Linked DNA regions of Homo sapiens: regions 1, 2 and 4 are each linked to region 3. Evidence: fine-mapped QTL for protein levels in blood plasma. A gene starts in region 3. Each other region holds a variant in brackets. All regions are shown on one strand. Distances are between the middles of the regions. Region 1 overlaps CRISP2 (cysteine rich secretory protein 2). Region 2 overlaps CRISP3 (cysteine rich secretory protein 3). Region 3 holds the start of CRISP2 (cysteine rich secretory protein 2). Region 4 has its middle 36 kb from the start of CRISP2.

Region 1 (8,112 bases), 18 kb after region 3:
TAATTCTCTTTTCTGGTTTACAATCAAGAAATCCCCCTTCCTTCAGGATATGTGTCAGCTGTTGTGAGTAAAAGCCCACTTCCCAGGGCACAGTCCCTGAAAGACTGGTATCTCCGATATGAAAGCAATGGCTTACATATGAAAACAAATGGAATTGGAAATAACGTTGGCCATCTTATTACTATTAAAATATAATTAGAATATTTCACATGCTTATCAATATTTAGACTAGCATCATTAATAAATATCCTAGGTATGGCTGCTTTGCTATCATAAATAATCACATATTATTGTCTTATTTTGCTTTTTAGATATATTACCTATGGACTACCCATCATGTGTAAACTGGCACCAGAAGAGATAAAAACACTTAAAAACATTTTAATAACAGTAGTATTAGAGAATACATCTACAGAAATTTTAAAGTATTTACAAATCAGATTATAAAGTGTATGTTTCATTGTGGCTGAATCATTAAGTGTATTTTGTTTTCTTGTGACGTTTAGGAATGGAGCAGAGAGGTAACAACGAATGCCCAAAGGTGGGCAAACAAGTGCACTTTACAACATAGTGATCCAGAGGACCGCAAAACCAGTATGTAAATTAGTAAATATTTGTTGAATAAATAAATGAATAAAATAATAATAGAGCATTGTAGGATGCTCTATAATAAGAAGACTTTGAAAATAAATGTTACTTATACTGCTGTCTTTTTGAAGTCAAAGTATCTGTATACAGAGGGGTATTTACAATAAGAACAATTTTGTGTTTTTTTATTGTGTACATTATGCAAATAATTTTGCTTCTTGCAACCAGCTCATGAGTACAGCAGATTTTATATCATCTTTCTTTTTGTAAGTTTAAAGATTAGAAAGCCAGAATTTGAAAGAAAAGTGACTTACCCAAGAACATAATCTGAAACAGTGTCATACTAGAAATTTTTAACCAAGCTTTCTGATTTCTAACCCACTGCCCTTTTTGTTAATTTATGTAGCTGTCTGATGTTTTGAAATCTATTTTTTGTATCCATAAAATATATTGAACTTATGATGAATTATTCCTAAGTTTTGCTCTAAAGTGGATAAAAGTGGATAAAGTGGATTTAAATTTATCGTATTCAAAATTTCTATAAAAATGAATATTTTTGAATATATTAATATATTAATTTTTAATATCAGACTAGCAAGTATTTTGTGTGGACTGGATACCTACAATGCACAGAATACTATATTCGAGTTTTAAAAAGACATATCAAGGATTATAAAAACTAGTAAATGCCCAAATAATTTATGAAGTGTTTCTGGGCTGTAAGGCACTTCTTGACAAACTCACAAGGATTTCAGCTTGTGATATCTGATTTCCTGGTTAAGAGAAAACCCATAAATTTTGAAAACTGTTATCCTTCCTGGTGTCAGTTTTCTCTTGATTGGGACTCTTAAAGACAGCCTATAAAGTCTTTTTTTCAGATTTCACACAAAGTCTTATACATTTATTTGGGGTCCTATATTTGAAAAATCTCTGTTGAGGGTTACTAGAGCAGAAAACAGAATATAAGAGTTGGTCACTGCCTTTAGCAAGCTTACCATATACAGCTGGGAACACTCAAGGCATACACATGTGGAAAATTTAGCATGCAAGGGCATTTTTAAGGAGCAGAGTGTTAACCTACTCAAAGTTTTATGTGGTCAGGCCAACCTCAGTGTGTCAGGCAGTTAAGTGTTCTAATCAGCTTTATAGCTGATAAGGAACTGAGGCACTCCTTTATGTATTAATCAACAGTTAGCATCTGCTGGACCCTGGGTTTGAAAGGCAACATCTTTGTGTTTGTGTAGTCAATTTCTTTTACCATTGCATGTTTATTACCTTGCTCATGAATGATCTGCCCCTTAGGTACAAGATGTGGTGAGAATCTCTATATGTCAAGTGACCCTACTTCCTGGTCTTCTGCAATCCAAAGCTGGTATGACGAGATCCTAGATTTTGTCTATGGTGTAGGACCAAAGAGTCCCAATGCAGTTGTTGGACATTATACTCAGGTAAGAAGAATGCATGAAAATACCTATGTCACAGATGTTCTAATAGAGGAAAGCTTCTCCAAATTATGACCACTGTAATGTTCAATTTAGGAGAACAGTCCGAGTGGGTAGAATACAGTCTTGGCATTTGGCTGTTGTAGAGCTGTCATTTTTGTCCATGGTCAGCCAAACTCTTAGTAGGAAAGCAGACTCTGTATTGTTCCTACATTATAAATTTTAAAGTGATGAATGTACATGAAAATTAAATATTTTTAAAGTTTATGACTTTGGTTCAATAATTTAAATATTTTTATGGTATATGTCTATAAAACTAACATTTTTCAGTTTTATATTTGCTACTTTTTTAAATATTTTTCATCTTCTCTAATGTACTTTTATATATTTATTCCATTGTTAATTTGCAGCTTGTTTGGTACTCGACTTACCAGGTAGGCTGTGGAATTGCCTACTGTCCCAATCAAGATAGTCTAAAATACTACTATGTTTGCCAATATTGTCCTGCGTAAGTAGACTGTTTAGAGTTTAATGGCAATAATTCTATCTGCAATTTATTTTTTAATAATTCTCATATCTTAAACCAGAATGAAAACATATCTCAATAAAAGGGAGGGGATAAACGTTTGGAAATGTTTTTTAAGGTTGAGACACTTTCAACTTCTCAGAGGAGAACAACTTCTCACTTTCAGGTATAAAAACTGAAGCTCTCATTCCTCATTAACAGAATAATGTCTTTTCTTTCAATTGGCCTTCCCTCAGCTTAGGGTTACTCTGTGAGCATGTGTAATATGTATTTCTCTAGAATTGGTATCATCACATCTTGCTAATTTCATACTCTAGGAGTATAGATGCTTTAGGGTGCTGGTGAGATTGCAAATGGAAGATGGATTGTGATTTTGGCCCTTTCTGCTCAAATATTCCTACTTCTGCTTATGTAAAACACACACACACACACACCACCACACACAATTACCATTACAAATTATTCATTCATTTGGATTTCAATGGCTTTTCAGGACATCTTTATTTCAGAATACAGAAAAGATAACATCTTAAGTCTCTGATTCTCAGAATTGTTCACAGAAAGCTCTTTAACCATCTTGTAAGGTTTGATTTGTAGCAGTAAACATGCTTCTTCATTAAACAATATGTTTAGAGTTATCCACAATAAATCCTATGGATATTTTAAGAAGATATTCACAATATCAAATTTAGTGTTTGAAATTCTTTACTACTGGAGGCTGCGGTGGGGGGCACAGCTACAGGATTTGTTTCGAGACTGTAGATAGCGAAGATGATGTACGATTCCAGTTTGAGAAGTATAACCTCCAAAGTCATTTTCTTTAAAGTACCTATTAGGATTCAAGTAGAGAGAATTGAAAGGCCCTGGGAGAATGTATCCAAACTCACTTACTGGCCCTCAGAGGGAAGCATCAGCAGCCAGGTGTCAGAAGTGACAGTTGGAATAGATCATGAGGGAAGCCAAGGGAACTAGAACTTTTAAAATCCTTTTATATCTGTTTCACAATTTTCCAAGAGCTCATACACACACAGCTATATTCTAGGCAAAGAGACTGAGATTCAGCTGCACTTCCTTGGGTCCTTACCCCACTTGGTCTATTGAGATTTGGACTCCCACATAATTTTAAATGAATTTAATGGCCAATAGAATAATGATCATCATTATCCTATGGTTAATCATTGCAAAACTATTATATCCTGGATATCAGTATTTATCAAAACTTTTCTTTAATCTTTTTTTCTTTTTTTTTTTTTTACTTTAAGTTCTGGGATAACAAAAACTAATATTCCATTTTGGTAAATGTAAAAATCTCATACATGCCACCTCTAGAAGCTCACAAACCTTCCTAAGCACACTCCTACAAACACACACACCACTAACTACTGAAAAATCGCAACCTCCATCTGGAAGAAAAAAATACTCTGGAGCTATATTTTTCATAGTTTCTGTTAGAGATACTATGGAGTTTTTTCCATTTTTCAAATGGAAAATGATATTTTAACATTGCATATTCATTTCCTGCCACAACCTGCTACTCCTAGGATCTTCTCCTTTCCCTCTACAGGATGTTTTACCCCTAATTGGCACCTTGGGGTACACTGCCTTAGTAATTTGACTAAATATAATGGGAGATAAAGATAGTGTTGCCACACTGAATATACTCTCAAAATTTCAGACTCTTGTCATCAAATTTAGTTACCCAGCCTGTGAAATTATGGTCAAGAAGATATGTCCATGTGTGAAGCATTTTCTTAATTTGGATTGTTATCTGAAATACACATTGGGAATTGTAATTTTTCAGTTTTGTTAACATACTAAAAACCCTGAATAACTATTTATGTATATTTGATGACTGATACTGCCCTTAGAGTATAAACAGTAAAGTGAAAAATATTTGACATGTATTTCAAATTTCAGTGGTAATAATATGAATAGAAAGAATACCCCGTACCAACAAGGAACACCTTGTGCCGGTTGCCCTGATGAC[T/C]GTGACAAAGGACTATGCAGTAAGTTTGAAGTGATTAGCTTGCTATTATTTATTATAGAATTGATATTATCTTTTCTTTATATAATTTAACAAATCTCCTAACGTAATGAATTGAAATAATGTATTGGTGAAAAAACCCAAAATTATTCAACAAAGTATGCTTAAACAAACATTTTACACACTGCAGGAGCTACATATTATTTGTAATGAAAAGCATATTGCCGTATGTAACATAATGGAATATTTATCATCAATGTGTTTTTGTGGCTCTTCAGAGCCATTTAATATTAACCATATACCATTTTGGTAAATAGTTCAATTCTCAAAGTTCATATCACTATACCAAAAGTGGTATTTTAAAGGAATCAAAATGTATAAATCTAAAGTGTGAGACCACATTATGGCTCAGTCTAGACAGGCACGCCAAATATTACTGTTTATTTGTGCTAATGTGTTTGTCATGCTGATTTCCTCACTTCTTTTTTATAGTATAATTAGGATCATAGTGTTTGCCTTAATAAATGATTACTTGCCCTATAATTTCATAATTGTTTTGTGTACATTTTTATGACAAAACTCAATCTATATACAATATTGGCTCATAGAAACTGTGCACATATTTTTGCAAAAGGAGAAAATGAAATAAATACCATATATCTCATTTAATAAATTGCCATGAATAGAAGTAAAAATAGCTGCTGGCTTTCTGTAGTTGGGATACTTTTATTAAAATTATTATGAATGATAAAGTTGACACCATCACTGAAATTTTTACCTCTTCAATGCATTCACCTTTACTAAGCATTTTTTCTGACTCAGTTATATAGCTATATTTCAGAATATTAATGATACCAAAGCTATAAATCAGGCAGAGGTGGGCGGATCACAAGGTCAGGAGTTCGAGACCAACCTGGCCAATACGGTGAAACTGCATCTCTACTAAAAATACAAAAATGAGCCAGGTGTGGTGGTGGATGCCTGTAGTCCCAGCTACTCAGGAGGCTGAGGCAGGAGAATCGCTTGAACCCAGGAGGCGGAGATTGCAGTGAGCCGAGTTCGGCCACTGCACTCCAGCCAGGGCAACAGAGCGAGACTGTCTCAAAAAAAAAAAAAAGAAAAAAATAGTTGAATACTTATACATTTTGCTGAATGCTATTTGCTAACAAGTCTGGAATTCATCTGTCATGGTATCAGCTGGTATCAGCTGCTGTGTCCATGGGATTGCCTGCATCACCCCTCTCATAAACCCTAGGTAACACAGAGGGGAGAGAGACACTGTCCACTTGGGGGAAAGAGAAGGAAGTGTGTGGGGTACTCTGCCTTGGATTTAGTACTGAGCCTGCCACAACAAAACACACACCAGTAAGAAACCCACAGCTCCTAAATCCAGATTGGTATGCAGATTGGTATCCAGATTGGTGGGCCTCTAGACCCACCATAGCACCAAAAAGGAATCCACTGCCCCAGTGGGACAGACTCAAGTCCCAGTACTACTGGTCAACTAAAATGGCCTCAGACCCCAAATGAATTGTAGTAGCTGGAAAGTCATAACAGCTGCTGGCCTTGGGCAAGCCCTGGTTCTGTCCTGGTCTGAGAGTCCATGGGCTTCAGATGCATCAAGGCACAGTGCCAGCTGTGGCATCCAGGGAATTGTCCATGTCACCCTTCTCGTAACCAAGTTTGCAGCAAACCTGGGTTTAGAACATCATCTAATAATGAAATAACTGCCATCTTAGGAGACTTATTCGCTCCTTTAAATTCTTGGAAGGCCTTCTGAAGAAAAACAGGTACAAACAAGCCCAGACTGCAAAGACTAGGATAATTAATTCTTTAGTGCCTAGATATTGAGATAGTAATCCACAAGTTTCAAGAACATTCAGGAAAATATGACCTCATCAAGAGAACTAAGTAAAGTACCAGTGACCAGCCCTCGAAAGATGGAAATGTGTAATCTTTAGGGTACAGAATTCAAAATAGCTGTTTGGAGGAAGCCCAACAAACTTCAATAAAACACAGAGAAACAATTTAGAAATTTATCAGAGAAATTTGAAGAAGAGATTGACATTTAGAAAAACAGAAATCCTGAAGCTGAAAAATACGATAAATAAACTGAAAAAAACATTAGATGGTCTCAACAGCAGAATTCATTAAACAGAAGAATCAGTGAGCTTGAAGACAGGCTATATGAAAAAGAGAAGGAAAAAGAATGAACTTTCTTCATTTCCCTTAGATTGTGGGTGGTGCAGGGAGATCACTGCTGAGAATTGTCAGCCTTTTAGCTAATACAAGGAGTTTAATTTGAGTTTTATTGAGTTTGAGGTCCCTAGGGAACATCCAAGTAGAAACATCAAAAGGAAAAGGGCGTATTGTCCTTGTTTTACACTTTTATCCACCCATAAAGATTATTTACTCAAAAAAAGCATTGGAGTGTAATGCCATGCTGCCCAATATTATGATATGATGGAAAGAGTCTCTATCAACATGTGCTACTAATCACACTTTGAACACTTGAAATGTGGCTAACAAGATTAAGAAACCAAAATTTTAATTTTAATTTAAATACCTCTGTGTGGCTAATGGCTCCCATATTTGGCTGTGCAGGCATAGAAAGATTTAATTACATTCATATTATTCTGCTTGCTGAGGGGGAAAAATAGGTCAATTTATTTTAGAAACATATCACTAAATGTGGAATTTAAAGAGTGATGGATTTATCAGTGAGCTCAACTAAGACACCTCATATGTCCCTGGATCCAGATAGACTGGATTAAGAAAATGTGGCACATATACACCATGGAATACTATGCAGCCATAAAGACATGAAAGACCCATTGTAGTGTAAGCGATGCTAACTTGTTTGTTCCCTCCTACCCCCTCCCCACACACTTTGAATGTATGGTTTTGCTCTTACTGAGGAAAACGATAATGAGTTAACTAATCTGTTTTTGTTACAGCCAATAGTTGCCAGTATCAAGATCTCCTAAGTAACTGTGATTCCTTGAAGAATACAGCTGGCTGTGAACATGAGTTACTCAAGGAAAAGTGCAAGGCTACTTGCCTATGTGAGAACAAAATTTACTGATTTACCTAGTGAGCATTGTGCAAGACTGCATGGATAAGGGCTGCATCATTTAATTGCGACATACCAGTGGAAATTGTATGTATGTTAGTGACAAATTTGATTTCAAAGAGCAATGCATCTTCTCCCCCAGATCATCACAGAAATCACTTTCAGGCAATGATTTACAAAAGTAGCATAGTAGATGATGACAACTGTGAACTCTGACATAAATTTAGTGCTTTATAACGAACTGAATCAGGTTGAGGATTTTGAAAACTGTATAACCATAGGATTTAGGTCACTAGGACTTTGGATCAAAATGGTGCATTACGTATTTCCTGAAACATGCTAAAGAAGAAGACTGTAACATCATTGCCATTCCTACTACCTGAGTTTTTACTTGCATAAACAATAAATTCAAAGCTTTACATCTGCCGTTGTCTTAATGACCTTTCTTTTAAACAAAAGTAATCAGCTTTTCGAACAAAGAACTTTTCTAAGCAACCAT
Region 2 (8,104 bases), 25 kb before region 3:
GTATTTGCAATAGCCATAGAAGATCCGGTGTTGCCTCTTCTGCTAGTTAAAACCAAATCTAGAATGTCTGCCTGTATGACTAAGACCTCTGAAAGTGGATCAAAAGAAATTAAATTGATGACAAGTTTCAAGCCTGGGAGTTACCCTACATTGATAAGTTATGAGGTAAATTGGGGCTTCTGATTTGTAACAGGCAGGGATGAATTGGGAGGAAGAGTGTCAGAATTCTCAAGTAATGTAAATCTGATAATTGCTATGAATTTCAGTTACGTTATTTATTGAATTCAAGTAAAAGGGAGGGAATTCATCCTTGAAAAAAAAGTGCTTCTCAAGAAATGCAAGACAGCTATTCTTATTTGGATATCTTTACGAATTTCTTACTTGATGAAGTCTAGCAGTTTTGCAAACTTTGCATATTGGCATAGGCTGCTTTCTGTATCACAGATACATAATAAGATGAAAGAAAGTGATCAGAATAAAGATTAACTATTAAATTTTAAGTAAGAAAATATTGCATCAAATACTTTTCTGTGCTGTGACTAGTTTATAAATGTGTCTATACCTATAGTGCACACATTATACTCACATGTGTTAATGCTTTTGACATCTTTTCTAATCCACGTAATCCTTTAAAATATTTCTATAGTCTGTTCTTCCTCCTTTGCTTTTTAATGTTACGATGTTTGGTCTGTCTCTTAAGTTTTGTATTTTCCTCCACCAGTTGATTTATCTGTTCCTACAATAATATTAAATTTTTGTCAACAAATGTTTGAAGTCTATCTTAATAACTAATATGAAAAGATAACCCAATTAATTCTTTCTTTTTTTTCTTTTTCTTTTCTTCTTCCTTTTTTTTTTTTTTTTTTTTGAGATGGAGTCTTGCTCTGTCGCCCAGGCTGGAGTGCAGTGGCACACTCTCGGCTCGCTGCAACCTCCACCTCCTAGTTTCAAGCAATTCTCCTGCCTCAGCCTCCCCAGTAGCTGGGATTACAGACATGCACCACCATGCCCGGCTAACTTTTGTAGTTTTAGTAGAGACGAGGTTTCACCATGTTACGCAGGGTGGTCTCAAACTCCTGAGCTCAGGCAACCCACCCTCCTTGGCCT[C/T]CCAAAGTGCTAGGATTACAGGCATGAGCCACTGCGCCCAAGCAATTCTTCTTTTAAAAGTTTACTCAGTTATTCATAAGCCACTTAAAATTTGTATTGGAATTAAAGTAAACAATTATCAGGTTAGTTTAGGATTGATATCTTTATGCTAACATGTACCATTTAAAAGCATTACAAAACTCTCAATTTATTCAGAACTTCTGCTATGTTCTTTATTAAAGTTTTAAGATTTTTTCCAAAAAGGATTTTTAAATTTGTTTTGTTGTTTCCCAGATACTGTATAGTTTTTTTAACTGTTATAAGTGTTTCTTAAATCTTATATTCTAGTTGAGTGTTTCCAGTAATAGAAATGGTATTTTTGTAAGTTGATAGTGCATCTAGCAAAATTGTTAATTTTGGTGTGTTCTCCAGATAGATGATCTTATCATTTGAAAACAATAACAATTTTACGTCTTCTCTTACAAAAGTTACAAATATTTTATATATAATAATATATTTTATATTATTATATATAACATAAAATGTATACATTACATTACTTGTATATATTATATATATATATATGTATATACTTTCTTTTCTTATGGCTTTGATTAGGATCTCTCCAGTACTGTGTTAAATAAAAGTGTTAGTCATTCTTTTCTTGTTCCCAATATTAAATGAAATGCACCTAGAATTTCTCCAATAACCATTATATTGGGTATAGATTTGCAGTATATGCTTCCTACCAAAGTAATGATCTCTTCTATTTTTTCTTTAAAAAAAAAAAAAAAAAAAAAAACTACATACAGGGGTTGAATTTAATGACGTATTTTTTGTCATATTACTTTGCTTTAGTCTGTTAATGTGATGAATTTTACCAATGAATTTTCTAATTTTGAATTATTCTTGCAGTCCTCATATAATTTTACTTGGTCATGATATTTTTAATATATTTTTGAAATTGATGAGTTAATATTTTGTTAGGATTCTTGCAATTCATTTATGAAGTGGGCTTATGTATTATTTACTATTATTCTTACGTCTTTTATGAGTCAATCCCGGAATTATATCCACTCCTCAGATTACATTTCAGGAAAAAACAGCATTGGGAGGAAGTAGTCAAGCTAATTTGAACCATACAACACTAGGGAGTAAGAAGGCGTGAGTATAAGAGCACTGGAGAGTGCTATCACACATGACCTTATTATCATTGGTTCTTCACACAGGATGGTACTTTCGTTTTTTGTTTTTTTTTTTTTGGTGGTTTTTTTTTGTTTGTTTTTTTTGTTTGTTTGTTTTTTGTTTTTTGTTTTTTTTGAGACGGAGTCTCGCTCTGTCGCCCAGGGCAGTGGCGCGATCTCGGCTCACTGCAAGCTCTGCCTCCCGAGTTCACGCCATTCTCCTGCCTCAGCCTCCCGAGTAGCTGGGACTACAGGCTCTCGCCACCATGCCCGGCTAATTTTTTGTATTTTTAGTAGAGATGGGGTTTCACCGTGCTAGCCAGGATGGTCTCGATCTCTTGACCTCGTGATCTGCTCACCTCGGCCTCCCAAAGTCCTGGGATTACAGGCATTAGCCACCGCATCCAGCCCCACACAGGATGGGTCTTACAGTTCTTCGATGCTACTTTGCTGACACATAGCACTAGAGCAAGCGTTTTTCTGTTGTTGCAGAATTTTGCAAATAAAGAGGAATCGATTGTTTTGAGGCAAGAGTAGAAACTAACAGGCATTACTTTAGACCAACCACTGCTGTTGGATGCAGCACTCCCCTCTCCTTCACATTCACTATACACAACACACACACACACACACACACACACACACACACACACATCCATATACACATTCTAGAAGTCATGAGAGACTTTATTCTCCTCAGATTTTCTCACTATCTTTTCAGTATTTTCTTGGAATCCCTGTTTCCCTCTTGCTTCTATAATTTTTTCAGAGTTAATTTTGGGGTGGCAGCAAGAAGCTTGCTTATTTTGATATTGTGCCTGAAATAAAAGCCAAAGGCTTGCTTTATAAATAGACCATTTGATTAATTCTTCTCTTAGCACTAAGCAAATTTGTCCTACTTCCTAATTTGCAAATCCTTATTTCCACAAAATGGACTGTTAAAGCCAGATATGCCTATAGAAGTTTTTGTAGATATATGTTGTCAGTCAATATGCAGTGATATCAGGTCATTTGATAAAATGATTTCCTTTTCCAAGGGAGTGTTTCAAACATACCAGTGGTCCTAACATCAGTGTGAAGAAGGCACAGTATGTTACAGTTTAATTGTATTATATACATTTATGCTTCAGAAAGACACAATTTGCTCTGCTGTAGATCTGGAATTAGTAGCAAACCATCACTATTTGAAATCATAAATCTTTGAAATCCAGGGACTTGGTTTTTCTCTAATCACACTTGAGATAAATTATTAATTTCTTTGAAAAAGGAAAACCAGAACAGAACAGAAAACCATATAAAAGGTAGGACTCAGTGACTTACACATAGCAAAATAACTCTTTCAAGTGAAATGAATTAAGAGAAATCTACTGCTTATTTCCAAGGAATAGTAGAAAATAATGTATAACTAATACACTTAGAAATTGCTTCATGGAAGTGAATGACAGGAGAGGCTATTTTTTTTTCATTCTTTCTAGTACCTTCTATGTGACGCTACTACTAAATGGAATTGCAAACAAATCATTTTCCACTTGCACCTGCTATTTACAGTAGTCCCTTGGGAGGAGAGGTGGGGATGGAGTGAAATATTACAGCGACTCTCTGTCACCATTATTGGTCTTAAAGCTGATGTTACATCTTTATCATATTTATCTCATTCAAGTTGTTTACTCCCTGAGCCCTGAATTGTGCTAGATTCTTCCCCATCTCTCTCCATAAAGCATTGGAATGGATCACTGTAAAAGGAAATAAAATTTTACTCTCCTCTTTTGCACACATGAGAAAATTCAACCAGCTCCCCCTCTGGGTACTTGAATGATGAGCTCCCGTAATTATATACCAGGACTCTGAGGGCAAGAACCAAGTCTTGTTCACTTGATCATGTGCAGCAATATTATAACATGTTATCCTGAATAGAGTGTACAAAACTTGATAAATGTCTCCTAAAGGAAAGAAGAATACCTAATTGTCTTTGACTTACAAATGAAAATAAGAATCTGTTTTTCCTCTTTTGCTCTCAAATTCTGCAGGAGACGCACTAGAGGGCCCATCTCTAAATACAGCACACTAGGAGTTAGGGCATCAACATATTGATTTAGAAGTGGAAGCAGGGCCAGGTTAAGTTATTTCTGAGTGAGTTTCAAGGTCTATAACACTAGTAGTTTGAAATCTTCTGGAGCTCCAGATCTGCATTCTGGCAACATCATTTTTCGTGGATTCTTTTTTTTTTTCAGACTTCAAGTGTATTTATTAATGCATTGGACAAAATAAAACCACACTTGTTATCAAAAGTATATCTCCCCTGCTCCCATTTTCTTGTTCTTCCATTGGAAATATCTTTGAAAAAGTGATACAAATGGATACCAGCAAAGTCCCATATTTGCGGGGTGATTGTGGGGCGATGCTGGGACGAGATGGTTTGTGACATTGACTTTAATAGCATGAAAATGGGTTTTGCAAGTGTATATCAGGCTGCATCCCAATACTTAGATTCACAGTGGGCGGGGTGGTGGGGTGCAGAGGTGCTGGTTAGGAGAAGGAAAGCTGAATTTAGTGCTGGGAACCAGTCTGGGGTGGAAAGCTCTTCCTCTGGGAGTTCTGTGGGGATTTGGTGTTAGCTAAGTTCATAGTCTAAGGGAGACCCAGTCCCAGCCCCCAGAGCTGAGGTTCAGGAGGAACCAGTGAATAACTAAGAAGGAAGAGCTTTTGTAGGATGAGTCACTACTTCTATTAACGTTCAGTCCAAATCAGAAGGCTAAGGATCTACCATATACTATTTGTTCTGCTTTCTTGTTTTTAAACTTAACACTGAAGCATAAGCTTCTTCTCTGAGGTTACAAAACAACCATAAATGTATAGTGGTTTTTATGTCTAATATACTGCCATAAGAGGATGTATTCTCATTTACTTAGACATTATATCTCCCTATTGCTAGGCATGTAATTAATTTACAATGTTTTAACCCTTATAAATGATAACATGATGAAAATTTTATGCTTAAAACTTTTTAGTATAGTTTATAATTTCAGTAGAATTCTAAGAAGTTGAATTAGTGAGATAAAGAATGTGAACATATTAAGGATATTAATACAGATAGGGTGAGTAATCCCTTAAACATGAGAATCAAATTATTACCTTTTTGTTTTAAGATCCAGAGGAAAAAAATGTTGCCTTTTTAAATTTGAGGCATGGTATTAAAGAAAGTTTTGAGAGGAAAGGAGTTAGGATGCTGGCTGCATGGGTAAACTTGAAGAGAGTAGTTTAAAGGTATGCATAAAAAGCATATACGTAGAGGACTTTCTAGGGTTTGAAGAATGGCAAGTATATGAGCCAGATCCCTGACGGAAAAGAACTGGCACATGCTAACTTTTAATTTGAAGAAATGTTAATAAGGTTATATTTATAAAAGTGTAGACAGCACTTAAGGAAATCAGCAAGGGCTAATGCAGTAGTATCCCAGTAATAAACACAGTTGGAAGCTACTGAATTGTTATTGTGAAGAATCCACTCCTACAACCTAAAGACAGTAGTTACACAGAGAAGACTGCGGAGCTGCGGAAGAAGGAGGTAGAAAGTCCTTAGCATTTATAGGCATGCTTCAAGGGCTTCAGTCGGGAATTTTGGTTTGTTCTTTATAGTCCCAGTTGAATGCATACTTTGAAAGCTGAATCCACTGTCATTCTGCTGGCTCCATGTGACAAGTCTTCTCCTGTTACATTAATAATGAATTTGGGATAATGGAGGTCATTACGTTTCTCCCACCCCCATGTTACTCAACAGCATGTACCAATCATTTTAATGCAGATCCCTGTTCCACCGGTTTTGTTTTCCCAGCAATGACATTATTCCCAGTGCTGTTGTTCCTGGTTGCTGGGCTGCTTCCATCTTTTCCAGCAAATGAAGATAAGGTATGGTTGAAGTCAAAAATCTTCAGAAAAATTCAGGCAACCATGAGGGATGGCAAGCTACTAGATCAATCTTCAAAAGTGAAAAGGTCTAGAGTGTCTGGTACATCATAAAGTACTCATTAGTAGCTCAAGGTAGTTAACATAATTATGTTTAAAGCTGTGGTGATCAATATGGTAGCCCCTAGCCACATGAGGGTATTGAAGTTCATTAATTAAATGACTTTGCTCCACCCCGCAAATTGCCTTGGAGATTTTTTTTAATGTGGTAAAACTATCTTTTGAGTGATCCCATAATATTTGCTACGTAATACATAAAACTCTTTTACTAGAGTATTGCATGTTACACATGCACTTAGGCTGAGCCTAAGCATTTTTTCTAAATACCAGACACCATTTCAGGCAGAAATTCCCCCTAGAGTCTTAGGGTAAATCATATGCCTCAATCTTTACAACTTCTTTGCTGCAGCCTGAGTGTGAATGTCTTAATAATTACTATCATGTACCCTTGTCACTATAAGATGTTATCACTCATATATTTAGAAAAATCACATTAAGACCTCTCTTAACCCAGAAATTGGTATTTGTGGCCTCAGAGGAGATTTTAGTTTGTCATGCCATGAATTATATCCCCATTCTGAAAACTTTCATCTAATACTTTTCCATTAAAAAGTCATAGCTTTGGCAGTCATTGACAATGTTTACCTAGCATTGGCAACACTTTTTAAAAATGGTCTTTGTTCCCTTGAACTAACATAGTTACTATTATGTGCAATTTCCAACAATGTTAAAAGATAATTGTAATTTTATTTTCCCTTAGGATCCCGCTTTTACTGCTTTGTTAACCACCCAAACACAAGTGCAAAGGGAGATTGTGAATAAGCACAATGAACTGAGGAGAGCAGTATCTCCCCCTGCCAGAAACATGCTGAAGATGGTAAGAGGTGATATTGCAAAGGAGAGGGGTGTGAACAAGCTGTGGAAGGAGTAGGCGGCTGGCAACTAATATCTCTTAATAACTTTGAAGTTTACAAAGTTCTCTCTGTATTTTTTTGTTTCATTTGAGCTGTGTAATGGGCAGAGCTGAATTTCTTAACTTCTCTTTATAATGGTTGCATAACGTCAAATTCATAGGGCTATTTAAATTATGGAGGCAGAATTAAAACCTAATCTTTGGACATACGGTGAAAAGCCATTATGTTTTTCTGCTCCTTATCTTATCTGTCCTAATCTGAGATCAGAAAGACCTTTTCCTTTTAAGATAAATGCCATGTAGGGTAAATAACAATCTACTTTTCTGGGCCCTGTACCAAAGGCCACATGTCTCCCGAACATATTCAGTGAGGGGGAAAAAAAGAAAAAAAGAACTGGAAATGAAGTAAGCCAGCTAATTACTTCATTGTTGGAAAAGCAATCTCAGCACCTCCACATGTTTATCAATATTTAGAACAGGACCATTACAAAAAATCTTTAGGTGTTTCTGATGTCCTGTGATAAATAATTGGACCATAAACCTAGATTTTTTGATTACTTAGGGTAGGCATATTACCTATATTTCTTTGTGGAGCAGATAAAAGCACATAAAAAATATATACATTTGATTACTATAAAAATCAGAAGATGCTTGTACAGAAATTTTATGATGATGTAAATCAACCTATAACCTGATTATAAAGCTTATGCTCCTTTGAGGTTTGAGACATTAAGTGGATATCTTTTTTCTGTCCTTGTTTCAGGAATGGAACAAAGAGGCTGCAGCAAATGCCCAAAAGTGGGCAAACCAGTGCAATTACAGACACAGTAACCCAAAGGATCGAATGACAAGTATGTAAATTAGGAAATATTTGTTGAATAAATCAACAAGTAAAATAATAAACCATGTTATGATGTTGCATTAAGAAAAGTTTGTAAATAAATATTGCTTCTAATGCT
Region 3 (8,112 bases):
GCTCTTAGATTCTAGTCTCATCAGTTGTTTTGAGTTTTTTTCTGCAATTTAGACTAACCCTGCTTATTCCTGTGAACCAACCAGCAATCTCTGGCTGCTGCTCAGAAGAAAATAAAGGAATGGGTAATGTAAAAATATGAATCAATATTCCAATTCTGGGCACACTGGAATCAGCTAGTGACCCCATATCAGCTTGGTTTCAATAGTTGCCCAATTCATGGAAAGCCTTCTAATTTAGTTAACTTAGGACAATTTTGCTTATTCTGCTTTACTGTTTTAAAATATCTTGCTGTTGTGCTCTTTGTGTAGGAATAGAGGATAAACTTACTCAACTTTTTAAAAAAATCTTCCAGATATCACCTTTTCTTGGAACTTAAGAGTTATGAATGGCCTTCATCATACTAATGCATTCTGACTGAACTCCTCTGTACCCTGAACACAAGAGACCCTAATAGTTACACAGAAATATCATTGCCCCATTCAGCCTGAAGAAGTTAAAGAAGATGAATCTTCATCCTTCTGCAACTGTTAGGATTAAGGGTTCTTTTATAAAAGGGAGAGGAGAAATGTCAGAGGAATGTGAACCGGAGCAACTCCATCTTAAATAGGGGCTGGGTAAAATGAGGCTGAGACCTACTGGGCTGCATTCCCAGACAGTTAAGGCATTCTAAGTAAAAGGATAAGATAGGAGTTTGGCACAAAATACAGGTCATAAAGACCTTTCTTGTAAAACAGTTTGCAGTAAACAAGTCAGCTAAAACCTACCAAAACCAAGATGGCAACAAGAGTGACTGCTGGTCGTCCTCACTGCTACACTTCCACAAGGGTTGTGACAGTTTACAAATGCCATGGCAATGTCACGAAGTTACCCTATATGGTCTACAAAGGGGAGACATGAAAAATCCACCCTTTGTTTCGTATATAATCAGAATAACCATAAAAATTGGCAACCAGCAGCCCTTGGGGCTGCTCTGCCTATGGAGTAGCCATTCTTTCCTCTAACAATTTGACCTTTTGACTTGGGGTTTTATATGTTGGCATACTTCCAGGGTCTTGCATTACTCTTCCCTTGGATTAGGCCATCTGCATGTGCAGTAGCCTGCTAGCACTTGGGAGCAGCCTCATGCACAGTGTGTTTAATGGAGTTGTACACATGCTCACTTGAGAAATTTTTTCTGTACCAATACAGTGTTTCTAGAAGAAGTGTTTCCCCTTGATTTAGTTCTAGAAAGTCCTTTCGTTCTCTGCCTCTAGGCCCTATTCTCCTGCCTCAATTTCCCCCTGAAAGATGTGATCTCCATAAGTCTTTATGGGAGGTGGAACAACCGATGGTCTTTCTTCTGTAAATGCTTTATGACTGGTGTGGGGATCACAGACCTCTTGCCTTGCTCTCTCTAGTGAAGGAAGGGTAGCTCCTTGATGGCCAGGGGAGGCATCTTCACCTGGAACTGGCTGGAACCCTTGTCACATGATCATCTAAAGCTTAATCGTCTCTAGGCGAGAGGAAATGAATTGGGTTAAAGATTTAATGGGAATTTTAGGGGGTGGATACCTATTCTTTCAGCAATGTTTGTTATGGAAATTTGCAGGAGAAAAACAAAACCTGGTCTTTTCTAGGATCTATGTGTTTCCTTAATGTCTTAGCACAAGCGACTCTGTTTTGGTTTGGTTTGGTTTGGTCTTTTGGGGCCTAGTGCATGAACTCAGTCCAAAACAATTGCCTCCTATGCTTTTGCTTAAAAAGAAAATTCCCCCCTTTTTGATAAGGTTCTCACTTAGGTGAGAGTGTGACCAAAACTTAGGGCCTTAGCACCACTCTCAGTTACCATTATTTCGGGTTTCTGGTCTCACCACATCATTCATAGGTTATGGTGTCCTCATGGTCACACATTTCTTTCAGCTCTTGTCATTCTAATTGAAGAGAGACCATTTGACATTCTAGCAATGGCTGCGTGGAAGCACTTAAAACCTTTGAGAGAATACAGTGTACCAGGGAAACTATTATTATGACTATCGGGAGGATAATACCAAGAGTTTGGAGTATGCTCTTTACCCAGGTTACCCATAAACCAAACCACCTAAAATTAAATAGATCAAAAAATGAGCTAAAGAGTCTACTTACTTAACTAAGCAATCTCTTCATTTATCCTCTACAGCTAAATCTCTATAGTCTTCATCTGATGTATTTCTCCATAGGCCACAAGTGCCAGCAGCTGCACAGATACTTCTCTATTCAGCCAATTCTATCATAATTTTCACAAGAGAATTTAAAGTCTGGTATTTAACTATATCCTATACAGTAGAATCTGCTATAGAGCCTACTATGAGGAATGCATTTCTAATCATTGCTTCTTTTACTCCAAACCATAGAAAAAGGAACTAACAAATGATGCCCTTCTAGAAAAGCAAAGGACTCCTGGCAATGTTCTTAGAAGTACCTGTACTATTCCTCTCAGTAATGGAGATCTACTTTCCATGTGCTCTCCAACACATTCAGGCACCAAACTTACAAGTCTTCTATTCTGGATTTGCCCTTCATACAAAATCTATCAACACTTTTTAAAAATCTCTTCATATTCCACCCTTTTGTCCTATTTCTACTACTACAAAATTAATCTGGGGAATTGTTACCACACTTATTTTTGCTGCCATCAATTTCTCAGCTCTGTAAATCACCCCATGCAGTGAGATCAGGTGGCTTTTATGAAACATTCTTTTGATCAAAGAATTTCCCAACCCTCCAAAATGTCAATGAAATTACTTTCCCATGTTATACAGAGAAGCAAATCTCCTTAGACTTCTATACAAAGTTTCCCCAACCTTTTCAACAGTCTTTCTGTCTTGAATATGCCTTGTGATATAATGATTTATCTGCTTTTGTTCTTCAACTCTTTCTCCCTTCAAATCAAGCCATACGCATTATTCAATAACAGTTCAAATGTCAAAACTTTCCTAGGTTTTACCCAGATCATATCAACTCACAGAACTCTCAATTACTGTATATATTTTTGGTCGCCCTACTTAGCATTAAACTACACTACCTAATAGTATTCTTTACTTATTCATATACATACTCCTTTCTCTCATAGTACTATGAGTCTTAGAAGAAAGAGATTTTATGTCCTTTTTTCTGTATTTTCTAAGAATCTATGTCGGGTCAATATTTACTCACTTAACAAATATTTACAAACTACCACCTATATTTGGTATTGTGTTAGTTTTGGAGATACAGCAATAATCAAGACAGACATAGCCAATTTCTGAAATTCAGGTTCACCAACAATATCTGGCACCACAGCGCTCAAGTTGCTCTCATTCTGATATCATCAATGTGAATATGGGAACAAGTAATAATTACAGGAATGACTCTTCTCCAAAAATGAAAAATAAGATATTCACAGTAAATGATAGACTATTATAGTGCTGAGAATGAATTGTTCGGCACTAGAAAGAAAGAACAAATAGGTAGGCAGAGATTTTGTGCATATAGGTATTTGAAATGTCCAATTAATAACTTAAGCAAGATATGGTGAAAACATGAATATAGAAGTGAGGGACAGATTGAGGACTAGATTTCATAAATATTTAGAAAGGCAAACTGTCAGTAATGAATTTTGATATTGGATGTAGATATAAGCGTTAAGCAGTCTAAATTCCAAAATTTTTAGTCAGTGCTGCATGAACTGAAATAAGCAGCAAAAGAAAACTAAAACAATGTCTGTGTGCTGATCCCTTGAAATTACCTTGTAACACTGCCAAAGGAAAATGGCACTGAGCACCAAGTTTGTTATAGTTTCAGTTGTGCCCAAGTGAGTCTCCAGAGTTGGTGAAATCTCAAGCCTCTTATTGCATGGCTTACAGAGAACCAAGGTATGACGGATATTAATCCTTGGCTTGACATCTTTTGACCCATCTCTCTTCCTCTAGGTCATAAGCGAATTCACTCCTTTTCGCTTTGAAAACAACTGTGAATAGAAGAAAATGCACCTATTACTCATCCGCCTTCTGAGAGAGAAAACATGTCTTTAACCCATGCTTGATACGTATGCTAAACTTGCAGCCAGTAGCCTTGGGTCAGGAGTTCTGCGTATTTTCATAAGAGTTGTTCCTGTTACTCTTCGTGAATTTTCTCACCATAAAACTGTTGCCAACGGGGAAGAGGGACAAGAACATGAAGTGTTTATGAGGGAGCCTGAAACTGACAACCTGTGTAACTGGAGTGCGTCGTTGGCATGACACTGGCAGCGCACTGCAAACTTAAGCACCTGTGGACTCCTAATTAGCTCTTTAAATTGAACTACATTAATTCAGGCATTCTTGTTTGAATGCGAACGCCTCCTTTTTCAAGCCACCCCCTGGGCAACCCGAATCCTTATATGACCTCCCTCCTCCTCCTAGTACGGCGCAGGTATGCGAACAGACATTTTCTTTCCTCATCAACTGGTGGTAATGAGAAAAAGAGAACTCTGCTTTTCACAAGGGAAAACGTGCAAGATTTTCTCCGTAGTAGGGGAGGCGGGGGCGATGGGAGGAGAGCAGCTCACGTAGGCAGATAGCGGCGATGAAAGCATAAAGCCCAGTGACGTCGCCCACACGTGGCGCCTGGCAAGTGAACAATCGCGGTGAGAGGGGCGCGCCGCAGCTCCTCAACGCCGCAACGCGCCGGCCCAACTGCAGGAAGGTCTGTGCTCTGGAGCCAGGGTAAATGTAAGACCCGGATTGGAGACTAGAAATGGCTAGGGACGGGGAGGTGGGGTGAAGCACAGGGGAGAGAACCATCGTTGAGGTGAGGGGGTTTCTGATCCTCCTTCGCTCCTCTTCCGGCATCTGGAGGGCACATAGCTAATGCCGGGCAGACTGAGAGTTCAATTTTGTTGCTTAGCGCCGACCTACCATAACTTTCAACATGCTTCTCTATGTTTAGTCTATTGAAACTCTTTACCTACCTTAAAAGAGAAATCATTCTAAGTACATAAGACCCATTGAATCATAGTAGAAGCCTGAAGTCATTTCTCAATCTGCTTTTTACGAAGTCAAATTAAGACTCTTAGTTTCTAATTGATGTTTTGAATGTACAGTTATTAGAAACTGTAATAACAATTAGAGTTGGGGTCATTGACTCTGCTGGACTTTATATCATCTATTGGCTTCCAGAATTTAAAAAAAAAATGAAGAGACAAAGCTGTTACCCCCAAATCCACGTAGTTAATACTTACCATGTGGGACACTGCTTATGGAAATGATCTTTTAAAGAATGGGTTGAAGTCCTAGATAAGGGGTTGGGAGTCTTGAAAAAAGGTTGCAATTTTCCAAGCAAGTTAGCCAACTAGTAGTTACTGAACTTCAAGAAGTCCACTTTTTTGTTAGTGTTTGAAGGAAATATCAGGGCGTTGAAATACAATCTGACCTCAGAAGGACAATATGGTCTTAACGCTGAAATCAAATAAATACAGTAAATTATTAGAAACAATACTAAACAATTGAGTCAAAATTTAAGTTTGTGACAAAGATTATAGATACCATCTATAAGGGTATTCTTCACATCTTTATTTTAAATATTTTGTTTCCTTGTTCTAGGGTTATAAAATTATACACCATGGCCCTCCTAAAGACACTCTAGGAAAACCATGTCATCCTGATCTTAAAACACCTGCAAGAAAGAGCACAGTACTTCACCATTAGTAAGTAGCAAAGAAAAAAAATGGTAGCCAACTTTTCAACTATATATCAATATGGGTTTAAAGGAATAAAATGTAATTATATGGAATAGAAAAAAATATTTTTCCTTGAATATACTCTCACCAACAGTGACATTGCTTTCATTGACTCAATGAAGATGAGTATAGGTTAGATGGTTGAGGTTATGAGAGAGAAGAGCAGCAAAGAGGAGAGTATGGCATCATGGCCTATTATAGAATTCTGGCTCATCAGATGCATACACTGGGTGATTGAGCTATACAAAACTCTTCAGGCTCCTGTGTATGGCTTTCAATGAGCTGATGAGGATACAACAGCCCAGATGTTAGAGCATTTTCCTAAAGTCAGCCAGAAGGTGTCTAATAGAACCAGGCCTTGAACATGTGAATCTCGAATTAGATTATACTGATTGTATTTTCCTATAACACCTGGAAGGAAACACATGTCTCTTAAACACTTAGTAATTAGCAATTCAATCAAACAGCATATGTTTATAGAAAGCTCTTATGAGCTCAACAAACTAGCAGACATTGCAAAAGATAATAAAAACATGAATAATTTCCGTTTATTTGTATTATGTGCATAATGTGTTTATTGTATTAGAGGTGTTACATACATTGTCCCTTCCAGTCTTCAAAGCAAAAACCTGTGATATAAAAATCTACATTTTACATAAGAAAAACACTGAAGCTTGGCATAGATTTCCCAGACCTGATGGTTTCCAAAGAATGCACCCGTAACCAATAAGCTACAGGTAGTTGATAATTAGAAAGTAAAAATCATAGACAGCTGAACTATGAGAGTTCAGCTATAAGGCAGAATCCTGGTAACCTTCACAGTAGTTAACCTGTCTTGGGTTGTCAATATAGAAATACTAGTCCAAAAAGGCCACATGCAGATTATCGTGTGCCTAAGGAGAAGGGAGAACTGATTAGAAAGGGAGGGCATGATTTACTTACTCATGTTAAAAACTATGTGGGAAGCAAATAATGTCAAAAGCATTATCAGACAACTGACAATGAAGTTTAAGGTTACTGGTATGAAAAATACTACTTCAGAACTTTGTTGACTTAGATTTATTTAACAAAACCAGAGTTTGACAAAACAGGAATATGTGTAATATATATGCTGCTCTAAACCTTCCACCTTCTTTCTTTCTAAAGATAAAGTAGATATTTCATCCTGCTCAGAAAACCAACAGTAAGTGTTAAATCATTGATTTTAATGTGAATATTTTATCATGCCAATCATTTTTATGTTGTCAAGGGTAAAATGATTAATGAGTTTGCCCATGATTTTATTTTTTTGTTTTTTGTTTGTCTGTTTGTTTGTTTGTTTTAGAGACAGGGTCTCTTTCTGTCACCCAGGCTGGAATGCAGTGCTGTGATCATAGTTCACTGCTGCCTCAAACTCCTAGGCTCAAATGATCATCCCACCTCAGCCTCCTGAGTAGCTGGGACTACAGGCACTTGCCACCATGCCCAGCTAATTATGTTTTGTTTTTGTTTGTTTGTTTTTAGTAGAGATGAGGTCTCACTGTGCTTTCCAGGCTGATCTTGAACTCCTGGGCTCAAGTTATGTGCTCTCACCTCAGTCTCCCAAAATGTTAGGATTATAGGAATGAGCCACTGTGCCTGGCCTATCCATGATTTTCAAAACTTTAATAAATTTGTATTGAGAATGACCTCAAGTTAATTTTATTCTTTTACAGTTAAGAAGGTAAATTACAGCAATATTACGCACACACACAAAAAAATTTGATATGTAAAAATTTTTTACATTTTATTCTAAAAATAAGTAATGGAATTAATTCTCATGTTTGTGACTTGAGACAATTATACTAGAACTACCTTTAATAGGAAAATGGAAAAGTATGGCTGTTTAAGTATATTGTATAAGCTGGCATATTAATGATTTTACTATTAACATATACAGTTATGTATTAATAAGGGAATTATTAAAGTAAAAATAAAGGGTCTCCATTGTGCTGCAACAATGTCTGCCTTTTCCCAATTAAAACTGTGTCTCTTTCAATGAGTCAATGTCTCTTTCAAAGTCATTGACTTCGAAGTCATAATTGGATGAAGACTAATTTCTGACATTACCTAAGAACGTAGCATTGGCATAGGTTAATTAACTGTCTTAAGCCTCAATTACATCATCCATACAATATAAATAGTAATACCCAGTAAGGTATGGGAGTGAAATTGTATATCATTTTCCATGAACCGTCAATAATTGTTCATCCCTCATCCCTTTTTTGCACATAATTGAGCATAAAGGCAATGGATGGAACAAGTATCAATGATACACTATTTACAGTAAGTGAAGCCTGAGAAGCATCACAGATAAATTGTTCGGAATTTTCTTTCTTTCCAAGAATTTGGGAGTGACAGTCTCACACACAAGAAACAA
Region 4 (8,112 bases), 37 kb after region 3:
TCTAGTTGAAAAATTACTACAGGGCTTAGTAACCAAAACAGCATGATACTGGTAAGTACAAAAACAGATAAACAGACCAGTGGAACAGAATAGAGAACCCAGAATTAAGACAGCACACCTACAACTATCTGATCTCTGAGAAATCTGACAAAAACAAGCAATGGGGAAAGGACTCCCTATTCAATAAATGGTGCTGGGGTAACTGACTAACCACATGTAGAAGATTAAAACTGGACCCCTTCATTAGACCATATATAAAAATTAACTCAAGATGGATTAAACACTTAAATGTAAAACCCAAAACTATAAAAACTCTGGAAGACAACTTAGGAAATACCATTTAGGGCATAGGCATGGGCAAAGATTTCATAATGAAGATGCCAAAAGCAATTGCAACAAAAACATAAATTAACAAATGGGATCTGATTAAACTAAAGAGTTTCTGTACAGCATAAGAAATTATCAACAATTAAACAGACAACCTACATAATGGGTGACAATTTTTGCAAACTATGCATCTGACAAAGGTCTAATATCTAGCATCTACAGGAAACTTAAATTTACAAGAAAAAATAAAACCTCATTAAAAAGTGGGAAAAGGATATGAACAGACACTTTTCAAAAGAAGACATTCATGCAACCAACAATCATACCAAAAAAGTTCAACATCACGGATCATTAGAGAAATGCAAATCAAAACCACAATGAGAGACCGTCTCACACCAGTCAGAATAGCTGTTATTAAAAAGTCAAAAAATAACAGATGTTGGCAAGGTTGTGGAGAAAAGGAATGCTTATACACTGTTGGTGAGAGTGTAAATTAGTTCAGCCATTGTAGATGACAGTGTGGCAATTCCTCAAAGACCTAAAGTCATAAATACCATTCAACTCAGCAATCCCATTACTGGGTATATACCCAAAGGAATATGAGTTGTTCTATCATAAAGACACGTGCACATATATGTTAATTGCAGCACTATTCACAATAGCAAAGACATGGAATCAACCTAAATGCCCATCAATGATAGACTGGAAAAAAGAAAATGTGGTACATATACACCATAGAATATTATGCAGCCATAAAAAAGAATGAGATCATGTCCTATGCAGGAACATGGATAGAGCTGGAGGCCATTATCATTAGGAAACTAACACAGAAACAGAAAACCAAACACCACATATTCTCACTTATAAGTGGGAGCTAAATGATGAGAACTCATGGACACATACAGGGGAACAACACACACTGGAACTTATCAGAGGGTGGAGGATGCAGGAGGGAGAGGATCAGGAAAAATAACTGATGGATACTAGGCCTAATACCTGGGTGATGAAATAATCTGTACAACAAACTGCTATGATACAACTTTACCTATGTAACAAACCTGCACATATACCCTTAATTTAAAATAAAAGTCGGCTGGGTGCAGTGGCTCACACCTGTAATCCCAGCACTTTGGAAGGCCACAGCTGGTGGATCACCTGAGGTCAGGAGTTCGAGACCAACCTGACCAACATCGTGAAAACCTGTCTCTACTAAAAATACAAAAATGAGCTGGGCATGGTGGCACATGCCTGTAATTCCAGCTACTTGGGAGGCTGAGGCACAAGAATCCCTTGAACCCAGCAGGCAGAGGTTGCAGTGAGCCAAGATCGTGCCACTGCATTCCAGTCTAGGTGATAGAGTAATACTCCGTCTCAAAAATAAATAAATAAATAAATGTCAAAAAAAAACAACAACACTGAATCAGAAACTGGGGTAAGATTCAGCAATGTGTGTTCTAACTATGAAAATTTGTGATTGACTGACCTAAGGCATGGAATATGGAAGGCAGACACCAAATTTGACAGACTCCAGTGCAGTCATTAGGGGAGAATATTCCACCCAGGACAGGACTCTTCCATTAACCTTATTGTGAGCTGAATAAAATTCCTCTCAAAACCATTTCCCTTTGCTCTCATTTTAAGTTCAAAAAACAACATTTTTATCACATTGCTTAGCTTTCTAAATAACTTGTCATGATAAAAAGAGGAGTCCTTAAAGGTGAACAGAATCATCCTAATCTTGAACAGGTGGCTAATACTGTACCTTAACTGACAGACTCAAGGGTGGCAAACATCAAAAGCTAGAATGCAGTAGTAACTAAGATGGAATTTAGGTTAAAAATCAATTGTAAAAGAACAAGTTGAGCAATACTTGGTGCATAAGTATCTCATATGACAAAGACTTAGAGCTTTTTTAAGTGCAAAAATGACTTATGACAACAGTATGATAAGACTACCAATGTGTTCATGCAAATCTAAATTGCCTTTATAGGAAAATGTTCACTCAATAAAAGTCTCATTCTAAAGTGCATTGTGCAGAACATAAGCAGAACATTATATTTTATTCTGATATTAAATGTTAACAGAATACTTGAACTGGTGTCTGAAGTATAGTGATAGGGAGGCAAAGTGTATTAAAATTGTCCCATTCATTAGGACATCCCACAGAGCCAACTGGGACACCAATTCTGTGGCATACAACAGACATAAGTAGCTACGATCATTTTGAGGAGTCAGGGACATTCTTATGCTTGCTTTGTTTTTGGCACTGTGGAATATTAAGTGGCCACCTAACCTCTTTTTCAGGTGAAAGACCTTTGTAGGAGGAATTCAAATGAGACAGTATCAACTTGATGCTGCTCCTGCTTAGTGTACAGTGATCAGAAGCGTGTGGGCAAAGACTAGTTCTAATGGTAAAACACATGAGTGCATCAGGCTAGAGATGCTCTTTACCTCCTTCAATTTAAATCCCGATGCTATCACATTTACACTCTCTGCAATTACAAATATCCCAATCCCACCGGAGAAACAGAAAGCCAGGGAGTCGGGGGGAACTAGTTAAGAGATGAGACAGCAAGTTGCACTGGTTATAAATAACTTTCTTTTGTCTCCATTGTACAGATTCGTCTGGGAAAGTGTAATAAGATGGAAATTTTTTCTCCCAAGTTTTATAGAAAAACCATACACTGTAGAAAAGCAATTGGAGTTTATTTAAGCCTCTAGAGTTAGAATGGCATTTCTTGGAATGTGGACCCATGCTGAAATGGGGACACAACACTGCTCATGTGAACTGTGCATGCCTCATCAACCCAATCAGTTTATATAAGCTATTTGGAGTAATAGATGATTTTTCTCTAGTGCCCGCTAAAGCGCTTAGCACCCTGTAGATCCATACTGATGTTCAGGGTATACTTGTTGTGTTGAATTGTTTCTGAACACCTTTCTAGTATTCTATTTTAGATATTATTTTTGTTTTATAATTCTGAATGCAGTTCTTTGGATGTACTCACCCTGCAAGTATGTTATCTCAGAGCTCAGAAGTCCTTCTGAGGTTCCATGGCCCTTCACTCTGAGAGACAGAAACACTGGAACTCCAGCAGAGGAGGTTGCAGAGATCTTTAGTAGGAGTTGCAAGTCTAACATTGATCCTAAACCCAGTTTCTCTAACTCCAGTATCAGTGATCATATCAAGAATTTACAATTGAATACCATTATTTCTTATGTATCCACTATAATTATATTTGCCTTCATTACCTATTTCCTTATAAAGTTCCAGTCCTTTAAAAAATTGTCTTTCAGGCTTTCCCTAGACTTCCTTAAGTGTATGTTTATTCATTATTAAGCTTGCTGTGTGTTTAGCTAGTCCTCTGTTTAGTATCCTGCACCCAGTACTCCACTTGACGTTAGCTATTGAGTAATAATTTAATGAATAGATACATAAGGAAATAAGGAATGAAAACAATAATTCCCACAGGACTGTATTTTGTGAGATGGACATTATAAGAAGCTACTCATATTGCCAAAGAAATCCTTAATGTATTTCCTGCTGTAAGTGTATGTGAAAGAACACTACCTGCCCTTCAATCTACCAAAAACAAAGAAGAGAATAGTTGTCATCCGTGCTCCTTTGGTAAACAAGAAACATCAACTCTATGGGAGGAAGGAATAAGAGCCAACTTCCCTTTGAAACATAATAAATACAAGGAATCATAAAAGTTTAGTTGAATGCCATGTTCTCACTCTCTCGTTAATACAGTGTTTTTTATTTCAATATGGTAAGTTGATATCCTAAATGCTTGGGGCATGTAAATTTGAAAGACAAAGTAAAAATATCTAAAAACTTAATGGAAAGAACGTATCACAATACATTTGATCAACAAGAATGAAACCATCGCCAAGATAACTTTATAAAATTGATTAAGAGACTCTTGCATGATTACCACTACACCAGTGGTGCTGCCAAAGTTGATTAAGGAAAACAATAAAGCTCACCTAAGCTGGCAGCACAATCAGCACTAATCATTAAGCCAGCTTGCCCTTTCGTCCTCTTCCTTGTAACTGGTCACTGCTTACTACCCCAGTATAAGGTAGCCCTTGTCAC[A/G]AGACTTTTTGTTCCTTTTCTGTTCCATAGATAAAATCTAAGGCATTGTGAGATGATAATCTTTGCTTTTGAATTTATTCTTTAGGTTCCACATACCAACAAAACTAGTGATGCCAGCTGCTCTGAACGACCTAGCAAGAAACTGACTCATGGAGGAATGCAGTTTCAACATCCTGATGATTACATCCCCCTTACCCTGACCAATCAACAATCCAAATTTTTCAGCTTCTCATCCTCCACAGTCTCCTTAAAGGACCCCTTCATGGAGCAAATTTGTGGCTTGAGATTTCCTCTCATTTCCTAGTTCAAAGGCCTTGTGATTATTAAACTCATTCTCGGCTGTAAACCCTGCTGCCTCAGTGTATTGGTCCATTGCTGCACAATGAGCATACAAACCTGGCAGTCCTGTAACACAAACACAGAAATTAAAAGGCAACTGTGGACATTGATATACAAAATTTATATTTATGATTGTACACAGACTGGATAACCAGCAGATTATGCCTAGCTCTGGCAAACACAATATAGTCTTTCATTTAAAAATATATTGAATATATATTGACACTAATATGTCTTGTAAATGCTGATTAGACTTTATAGAAGATACTAGTCTCAATATATTAAAACAATGTGGATAGATTTTATGTTATCTTCCAAAATGAAGATCTCCATTTACTGGAGGTGATCATTACTAATAAGGATGCAAATTCAGTTTATCATCTTTATTGGCAACTTGAAGTGATGAGTTAGGGTGCTGACTTGCCAAATTTTTTATTGAACTGCAGCTGTCAGGGATAACAAATAATCTTAAAGTCAAGGTTAACAGGGCAGAGCCAGCAGTTTGGAAGGCCAAAGTGGGAGGATCACTTGAGCCCATGATTTTGAGGCCAGTCCGGGTAACATAGTGAGACCTCATCTCTACTAAGAACAATAATAATAATAAAATTAGCCAGGCATGATGGTGGACAGCTGTAGCCCCAGCTACTCAGGAGGCTGAGATGGGATTATCACTTAAGCCTGGAAAGTCAAGGCTGCAGTGAGCCAAGATCATGCCACTACACACTAGCCTGGGTAATAGAGCAAGACCCTGTCTCAAAAAAAAAAAAAAAAAAAAAAAGTAGAGAAAAAGACTTTGGTTTTGTATACATTCAGGTCACTAAATCAAGGTGACAAAGTAGGTGAAAAACTAAATTAATTTTGTTTTGTTTGGTGGAAAAAAGTAGGCACTAGTCCAGTTCTGCCTCCTGTGACACCATATGAATAAACAAAAAGCTCTAGAGAATAACAATCTACATCTGCTTCCATTATGTGAATTCACACATCATATAATATAATCACTTAACTCTCTGAGTCGTAGTTTTCTAAGTGAGAAAATAAAAATTCCTGCCCCATTACTTCAGAATCTTGTAATGTCACAACATTATATTTCTGAATATTTTGTGATGGTAAACATGCAAACATTAGACATCATTATTATTTTGCTTAGACTACATGAAGATATTATTTTCTAAAGTATGATTATATATGGGAGTTTTTAATAAAATATGACTTAAGAGAAAATACTTGAAAACCATGACCTATTACAAATTCTTGAAACAAGGGAAAAGATTGGATTTGTAAGAATCTGAGAGCCATCTGCAAATCTCATTAAACTGTATTCCCTGTCTACTAATTATGAATGTCTTATCTCCACCAATTCAATTCATCATGTACACTGCTACCAAACTATTCTTCCTGGGTCATAACTTATTAAGTGTTTCTTTTCTGCTTAAAAATCCTCCAAAACATTATCTTTCCTATAGAATACAGCATTTAACTGGAAATATTATGATCTTTCATAAATTGGTTATAAACTCTATTCCCAACCTTTTCCCCTTCCCAATAGTTCCCAATGCAACAATTTGGGAGTCTGTATTAATCCTTTCTCACACTTTTATAAAGAAGTAACCAAGACTGGATAGTTTATAAAGAAAAGAGATTTAATTGACTCAAAGTTCCTCATGACTGGAAAGGGCTCAGAAAACTTACAATCATTGCAGAATGGGAGGCAGGCACCTTCTTCACAAAGTGCCAGTAGAGAGTGTGAGCATGCAGGAAAAACTACCATTTATTAAATCATCAGATCTTGTGATAATTCACCCACTATCATGTAAACAGCAAGGGGGAAACTGCGTCATAATCCAATCACTTCCCTTCCTCGACACATGGGAATTACAGGTTCCTCCCTCAACACAATGGGATTACAATTCTAGATGAGATTTGGGTGGGAGCACAGAACAAAACCATATCAGAGTCCCTATCAGATGGCATAGTAAGAATAAGTAGTTTCTTCTTGCTGTAGTACTCCAGGCTTTTCTGCTTTATCTCTCAAAGGAGTGATATGATGTTTTATTTTCCTCTTGATGTCACCAACACCTAGAACATAACTTGCTTTTAATACATGCATGCCAAATCCAAGATCTGTAATAGATAGTCTATAAATGTGAATTTTAATCTTACTCATCAGAGTGTACAATTTCAAAATATCATCTTTTATGTAAGCTCCCAATTAACTACATAGATATATTAATGCTCTCTTGTTATAAAAATCAGAAAACTTAATTCCAAATGACTTAAACAAACCAGGAGCTTTTTCTGACTTCGTACGACTAAAAAGTCCCAAAGTGGGCACACTGTTGGAGCCAAAACTTTTCAATATCATCAAGTCACCAGATTATCTTCTCTGTGGTCCTGTTGATTCTGTCTTCCTCCATATATTAGATTTACCTGAACATTATGTTATAATCTTATTTAAAAACCTGTAATTTTAAACATGAAACAAAGAGCAAGATATTTATCTTTTCAGTGAGTGGATTTTTACACAGCAGCATGGAATGAATAAAACAGATTTAATGTCATCTCCCAGCCTCCCTAGGCCAGACTTCAAAAAAAATAAGATCTTTAACTCAAGGGTGAAGCAATATAGCCTTTCAACACTTTAGACAGGGCACAAGACTGATGGCAGAGAACCAGATGGGTTAGTGAGTATGTTCAACATTCTACTGATTCTGAGAAACTGAGGTGTCCCTGTCTAGTTAAAGGACAAAAAGAAAGGTCACCGATCCATGTTAACTGATCTAACAGGACAGGCATGGGGTTCAGTATCCTGCTGCCTCAGACTTCCTAGAAAACACAACCATGGCGCCATGGGAGCCAAGAAGCAATGGGCTTCTTTCTTCTATGAGACTAATTATTACATGTAGTCACAGCTCTTACAAATAATGGTCTAGCATTAATAAACTAGGCCATCCATGAACATGTGACCCTTCCATTTTTTAAAATTATATTTTTAGTAATTGCATTACATTTTAAACATATTCACTCTTACATTATTATTATGTTCTAAGATGTCGGCCTATATTTAATATAACACCTAATGATTTCAAGTCGTTAAGGGGACACTTTGGTGATCCAAGGTAGGGTGTTTTCAACAGAAGTTGTATATGCAAGCAAAGCCAACACACACAAAAAGTTTTTTTTTTCTTTTATTATACTTTAAGTTCTAGAGTACATGTGCACAACATGCAGGTTTGTTACATAGGTATACGTGTGTCATGTTGATTTGCTGCACCCATCAACTCATCATTTACATTAGGTATTTCTCCTAATGCTATCCCTCCACCAGACCCGCACCCTCTGACTGGCCC

What was found. A credible set is the group of variants that fine-mapping cannot tell apart. PIP is the posterior inclusion probability: the model's chance that the variant is causal. Protein levels are from the aptamer-based SomaScan assay of Sun 2018.
Region 1: its variant is the best candidate, but not a certain one, in a credible set for the plasma level of the CRISP2 protein (Sun 2018, PIP 0.69). The variant lies in the coding sequence of CRISP2. If it changes the protein, the assay may bind it differently, which can mimic a change of level.
Region 2: its variant is the best candidate, but not a certain one, in a credible set for the plasma level of the CRISP2 protein (Sun 2018, PIP 0.73).
Region 4: its variant is the best candidate, but not a certain one, in a credible set for the plasma level of the CRISP2 protein (Sun 2018, PIP 0.76).

What each region holds. Positions count from the first base shown.
Region 1 is chr6:49,692,286-49,700,397 of GRCh38, reverse strand. It overlaps CRISP2 (cysteine rich secretory protein 2), which reads left to right. Exons shown (of 10, transcript NM_003296.4): 6 at 507-594; 7 at 1,891-2,036; 8 at 2,441-2,538; 9 at 4,474-4,562; 10 at 7,498-8,039. The coding sequence ends at 7,625. Among named protein-coding and RNA genes, the nearest start is that of CRISP2, 17 kb to the left of the region's middle. RefSeq lists a silencer at 6,556-6,756. The variant T/C (reference allele first, on the strand shown) is at 4,544.
Region 2 is chr6:49,735,396-49,743,499 of GRCh38, reverse strand. It overlaps CRISP3 (cysteine rich secretory protein 3), which reads left to right. Exons shown (of 8, transcript NM_006061.4): 2 at 6,102-6,175; 3 at 6,993-7,109; 4 at 7,909-7,996. Among named protein-coding and RNA genes, the nearest start is that of CRISP3, 4.9 kb to the left of the region's middle. The variant C/T (reference allele first, on the strand shown) is at 1,108.
Region 3 is chr6:49,710,070-49,718,181 of GRCh38, reverse strand. It overlaps CRISP2 (cysteine rich secretory protein 2), which reads left to right and starts at 4,639. Exons shown (of 10, transcript NM_003296.4): 1 at 4,639-4,707; 2 at 5,578-5,681; 3 at 6,861-6,897.
Region 4 is chr6:49,673,312-49,681,423 of GRCh38, reverse strand. It overlaps a transcript of CRISP2 not described here. Among named protein-coding and RNA genes, the nearest start is that of CRISP2, 36 kb to the left of the region's middle. The variant A/G (reference allele first, on the strand shown) is at 4,427.